Regions from separate parts of the Homo sapiens genome. Here region 1 is linked to region 2. The links come from fine-mapping of genetic effects on gene expression. Tissue or cell type: caudate. Region 2 holds a variant in brackets; the other region holds the start of a gene. All regions are shown on one strand. Distances are from middle to middle.

Region 1 (2,626 bases), 67 kb before region 2:
CAGGCCGCCCGCGTGTGCATGTCCGTGTGCGTGTCCGTGGGCGCCCAGATGCGGCGGCGGCGACGGCTCCAGCTGCGCCTCGTGGCCATCCTCGTGCAGCGCGTGGTGCAGGCCCGGCCCCGCGCCGCCACCGCCCGCCGCCAGCATCCCGGCCAGGCCGCCGCCGCCGCCCCCCGGGTAGGCCGCCTGCGCGTACAGCCCGAGCGGCTGGGGCTGGTGGCCCCCGCTGGCCCCGGGCGAGGGCGACATGGCCGGGCCCAAGTGGTGCGCTGTGCTGCCCTGCGCCCATGCCGCGCCCGCGTGGGCCGCCCCCTGGTGCACCAGGCGCGCGTGGAAACCTCCGCCGCCGCCGCCGTCGTCGGCTCGGCCGGTGCCGCCGCCGCCTGCCTTGCCGTGTTCTAGGTGCGGGCCGCCGGCCCAATCGCCGCCGCCGCCTCCTCCCGTGGGTAGCCACTGGGGGTGCGCTAGGCCCACGGGGTGGCCCGCGCCCGCGCCCAGCCACTCGTGGTGCATCAGCTTCTGCACTTCGCGGTACGCGGCCCCTGCATGCAATCGCTCCGCGGCCGCCGCCGCCGCCGCCGCCGCCGCGGCGTCCGGGTGCATAAGCGGCCCGGTGCCCCCGGCTCCGCCACCGGGGCCCCGCGGCAGGTACTGCGCGGTGGTGGCCATGCCGCCCCGCGCCCTGCGCCGCGCCGCCGCCGCCGCTCCGCTCCGTCTGCGGGCCCCGCCGCCTCGCTCCGCCGGCTTAAAGCCCCGACCCGCTCGGCGCTCCGGAGCCCCACCCCGCCCGCCGCCCATTGGCTGCCCGCGGAGCTGCCTCCCGCCTCCCCTGCCCGGCCCCCGCCCCGCGCGCCCGCCCGCCACCCTGCCCGGCCGCCCAGAGCTCTCCATTGGGCGTCGCTCCCGGGGTCCCGCGCGCCGGCCGTGCTGATTGGCCGCTGGGGCTTCATTCACGGCCCCCCTACCGTCCGCGTACACACTCACGCCCCGGGGGCGCGGCCGCCACGTGGGGAGTGGCGCGGGGGTGGCCCTGGGACCGCACCCCCTCTCGTCCTGGCTGTGTGGGCCCCGCTTTCCCCCAGCGCTGGAGACTCCGAGCCCGGCCGGTCCCACATTCCACGCGAGCTGAATTCCCGCCCGCATCCCGCCCGGGCAGCAGGGATTGCCGGCTCCGGGAGGCGCTCGGGCTCCGAGAAGCGGCTCAGCCCCGCGCCCCTCCCTCCTCAGTACCGCTGCCGGCGGACCAGGATTCCCGCGGGTCCTGGCGGCTGCGAGCGCGAGGCGGCGCGGATTCGCGGCTCGGTTCCGGCGCGACTGCTCACCGCGCCCGCCTCGCCTCCCGCGGCTGCCAGCGTGCACTGGGCGCTCCTCGGCGCGTCTGCCCGGCCCGTCTCGGCTTTCCTTCTCCTTCCTCTAGTCCCAGCGTCACAACTCCGCCGACCTCCTCTGCCCTGAGAGCGCGTCCGGTGCGGGCGGAGTCGGACGGACTCTGGCTTCACGCCTCGCGCGGGCACACCTTCTCCCGGGCACTGAGGCCCAGGTGAGTACCGCGCGGGCAGCTGGGGCTGGGACGGCGGGCGGCAGCGGTTCTACAGTCCTACGCGAGCCCCTGGTACCCGGCCGCGCTCCGGGGTTCCAGAAGGAGAAGATCTCGAGGTGGAGACTGTGGCTCCGGGGAAAACGCTGCTGGCAAGGGCGCTAGTTGGGGGTGGACGTTGGGCCCAGGGGTATCTGACCTGCGCCGCTGCAGCCTTCTCGCTCCTTCTCCCAGCTTGAACGGCTCATCGGCTGTGGTCGTGGTGGGATCACGCCCCGGGAGAGGAGAAGGATGGGCTCAGGGAAGGGGCTCGGGCTCTCCAGAAATCCGGCGTGCAGGCCGGGAGCTGTCCAGCCTCGCTAAGAGCCCTGGGCTAGAGTTTGCCCGGACTTGCCTGGAGCTGCTGAAAAGGGAATTGAGATTGAGGAGGCCTTGTTGGAAAGGTGGGCAGTGGAATTTAGCTACCTCCTCACGCCCCAGCCCTTGAGGACTCCCTGAAGGATCTTGAGTGGAGTCGGACCTCACTGCAGTTCCTTTGTGCCTTCTTACCCGACCTTGGGCCCCAGGCTGAGGGTACTGAGCTGTGTTTTCTCCTCTTCCCCACACCGAGGCTTGGGTCCCAGGGAGTCTTCAGCTGCCAGTCCTCCCTCTTTTCTCTCCTGGATCTAGCCTCAAGTGGATTTATAGCTTACAGGGCCCTGGGGTCCCAGATCACAGAACTGAGCTGGGGGCCCACCTAGGGCCCCACTGGGCAAATCAGGTCTGTGGAATAAATCCTTAGATTGAAAAAAGTTGCTGGGGGCTCAGGTGGCAGCTGCCATTGGAACGATCCAGGGCGGCTGGGACAGAGTTGACAGTGACAGGGGTCACCCTGGGCACAGACTTTGATCATGTGGGCCCTGAATGCCCTAGGACCAGCCAGGGAAGGAGTGGGACAGAGCAGGGCCCTTATCCTGCCATTGGCCACTGTCCTGAGCAGGCTCCGTGGTCCCACCCTAGCTGTAAGAGCTGCGATGGAGCTCTGTGTCTGAACCGAGCTAGAGATACTGGGCTTTCCTGGACTCTGGCCCAGGGAATGGTCACCTTGAG
Region 2 (2,756 bases):
ATATCCTCATTAAGTCCCAAATACACATCCCAAACTTTACATAACAGGAGCAGCAGCTGGAGACGCCCACAGCCCTAATTGCTTTTCTGTACTAAGAGAACGTCTTCTCTTCAGCTCTGCTTCTCCCATTCATTTAGGTAATTACTGGAGGGAGCCAGCTGTGGAAGGCTGGCGGGCAGGCAGGCGCATTTGTGACACCACCTAATGGGTGCCGCCATGAGGATGGGGTGCCACGGGAGCTGGAGCCTGTCCGTGCTCTTCATGGGGAGTAGGGTGCTGAGGATGGGAGGCCAGCTGCTCGGCTTCAGTCCTGATCTCAGTGGGCCCAAAGTGAGCTGCCGGGATGGAATGCCTCTCCTCCCAGGGACTTGACAAGCACGATTCCAAGAAAGGACAGATCCAGAGCCAGGTACAGGCATGGGGAGGGGAACGCATGGAAGAATCGACTCTGCTCAACGAATTGCTCAAGGTGCTTTCTCTGAATCTCATGTTGGGCTGGGGCACTGAGGCCGATCAATCAGGAAGAGCCCACTCTCTAAGCTCACAGGTCAGGGGAGGAAGCAGTCATGGGCCAGAAAGGGCTGGGATCAAAGGAAGCTATCAGGACTGGGGTGTGCAGAGGACACAGAGACTGACTCTGTCTTGGTGACAGGGAATCTGGGAAGATGTCTTGGAATAAGAGATAGTAGGATTGGGCCTTGGAAGTGTGTATGACCCTGCAGTTGGTGATCCCTTCTGCAAAATGGGGCCAAGGAAAACTTCCAGGCCCCAAAGTGACATCTGGTTTGTCCCCTTGCTTCCTGGTCCCTAGTAACAACCTGGGACTCATGAGGATCCTCTTGAGGTTTCTTTAAGGCAGTCCTGAGCATGGGGCTCGCAGCTGGAGCCAGCCTGGAACCTGGGCCCTTGGTGGTTGGCCAGGGTGGGTGCCCTGGAAGAGTCAGCTTTGAGCCTGTCTTCAGAGGGGCCCTAGGGAGGGCTGTGGCCTAGGCGCTCTGCCCACCAGGCTTCCTGTGGGTGGCAAGTGAAACTTTTCCTCTTGGTTCTCTCCCAGAAGCCAGCTTCATTCCCCCAGCCCCAAGTGGCGGCTCCTTGGGCCGGAAACAATGTGCTTTCTCCACGCCTTAGAGTGGAAGTCAGCAGTTTGGCACCGTCTGGCTGGCAGCCTCCACCGGCTTCCTTTGGCACTTTATTGGCAAAGGCGGTGACATTTCTTTCAGTTGGGTGGGTGGAGCTGTTATGCAAACTCCCGCTCTCCTCATTCGCCAGATGAATATTCATGACTCAGGCAATCTGTACCAGCCAGACTTTCCTGAGGGCGGCAGCTTTTCTTCTCTTCCTCTCTCTCTTTTTCTTTCTCCTTCTCTCCTTCCCAGCTCTTTGGAAAGCTGAAGTGCAGCTATATTTAATTTACAAATACAGAGCCATTTAGCTTGCCTTTTGAGATGCAGGCACTGGGGAGGAGGTGCTGGGGAATGGGAACAGTGGTTGAGGAGTTTGGTCCTGACCCTGTGCCTCTAAGCTCCAGTGTCCAGCCCCTGGGCCCTAGATCCTGGGAAGCTTTGGGAGTCTGGAGCTTCTTTGAGCTTGGCCTCTTGGGGCCTTCAGGGATGAAGGTACAGCAGCTCACGCCACCCCATTCCACACTGGCCTCTGAGGTCAACATGGAAATTCTCAGGCAATGATG[G/C]TTTCCTGCAATTCATGGCCTGGGACCCACCAATACATCTTCTCCCGCTCTGCTCTCCCGTTTGTCAAGGCCCACCCAGATCCTGCTCCAAGCTCTAGGTGGAAGCCCAGAAGGCACTGGAGCATTTGCTAGTCATTGGCTTTCCGGGGAAAGAAATAATCCTTGTTTGGGGTCCAATTCCTTGGGGACACATTACTCCCTTTCTAGGAAGGACAGGTCCCTAGTTTCCTTTGTCTCTTCCCAAAGAGGCACCAAGAACTCTGGCAGAGGGGTCAGAATTACCAGAATTTGCCAGGAAATGTGGTCTTAGCAAGGATGTGCTTGCGTGAGCACGTCTTGTGTGTGTGTATGTAAATATTTACGCACAGCTTAAGTGAGTCTGTGTGCCTACATCTATGTTCAAGTGTCTGAGTGTGTGTCTGTATGTGTAAGGGCGTGAATGTGTGTGTCGCGGGAAGTCTGGGAATGCTTGCATATGTGCGAATGTGCCTCTCCAGTTCGCGTTGCGTGTGTACCTTTGGGGGGACTGGGGATATCGTGTGTAAATACGGGTGTTCCTGGGGGGCCCAGACGTGTATGCGAGTGTGTACGTCTATTAAGTGAATTGTAGGTGTGTGTAAAATGAGAGTCTGGAGGAGAGAAAGAGAGAGTGTGCATGTGTGTGTGTGTGAGTGTGTGTGTTAGGGTGTGTTTCCCTGACCTCCATTTCCTCCCAAACCTTTTCCTCTCCAGGAAGGTGGAGGGGGACGTTTCCCCCTTTGCAAGTGTTACAGATTCTATCCGAGGACGTGAACAGAAGGTTTCCCAGCACAGAGCGTCCTGAAATTACTTTATATTCCCCCCCTCCTTGTTTCATCTAATCAAAATAGCAGCATTAGGCTCACCCATTCTCCCTGCCCACCCCTCAGCCCTGGGGGAGGGAGCGAGGCGGGCGGGCCATCTTGCCTGACCCCCTTTGAGAGCACCTTGCAGGCCTGAGCCAAGGAGCTGTCTTCCAAATCTCCTCTTTCCTCAGCGGCCCATGCTTCAGTGGCAAGAGCCAGCTGCCTCCCTGCCTGCCAGCAACTGC

Which allele goes with the higher level. Positions count from the first base shown, and alleles are read on the strand shown. Sizes are in standard deviations (SD) of each study's normalised expression.
With allele G in place of C in region 2, the expression in caudate of the gene that starts at base 1,060 in region 1 is higher (small effect, 0.19 SD a copy in GTEx).

Evidence for each region. PIP is the estimated chance that this variant, and not a neighbour inherited with it, causes the effect.
Region 1: it holds the start of MIR3659HG, and the variant in region 2 is fine-mapped to the expression of MIR3659HG in caudate (GTEx, PIP 0.98).

Annotation. Positions count from the first base shown.
Region 1 is chr1:38,046,075-38,048,700 of GRCh38, forward strand. It overlaps MIR3659HG (MIR3659 host gene), which reads left to right and starts at 1,060. Exons shown (of 5, transcript NR_168386.1): 1 at 1,060-1,540. It overlaps POU3F1 (POU class 3 homeobox 1), which reads right to left and starts at 719. Exons shown (of 1, transcript NM_002699.4): 1 at 1-719. The coding sequence starts at 669. RefSeq lists a silencer at 780-1,109 and enhancers at 1,022-1,522, 1,523-2,023.
Region 2 is chr1:38,113,278-38,116,033 of GRCh38, forward strand. All of the region lies in intron 4 of MIR3659HG (MIR3659 host gene), which reads left to right. Among named protein-coding and RNA genes, the nearest start is that of MIR3659, 25 kb to the left of the region's middle. RefSeq lists enhancers at 696-1,561, 2,672-2,756. The variant G/C (reference allele first, on the strand shown) is at 1,688.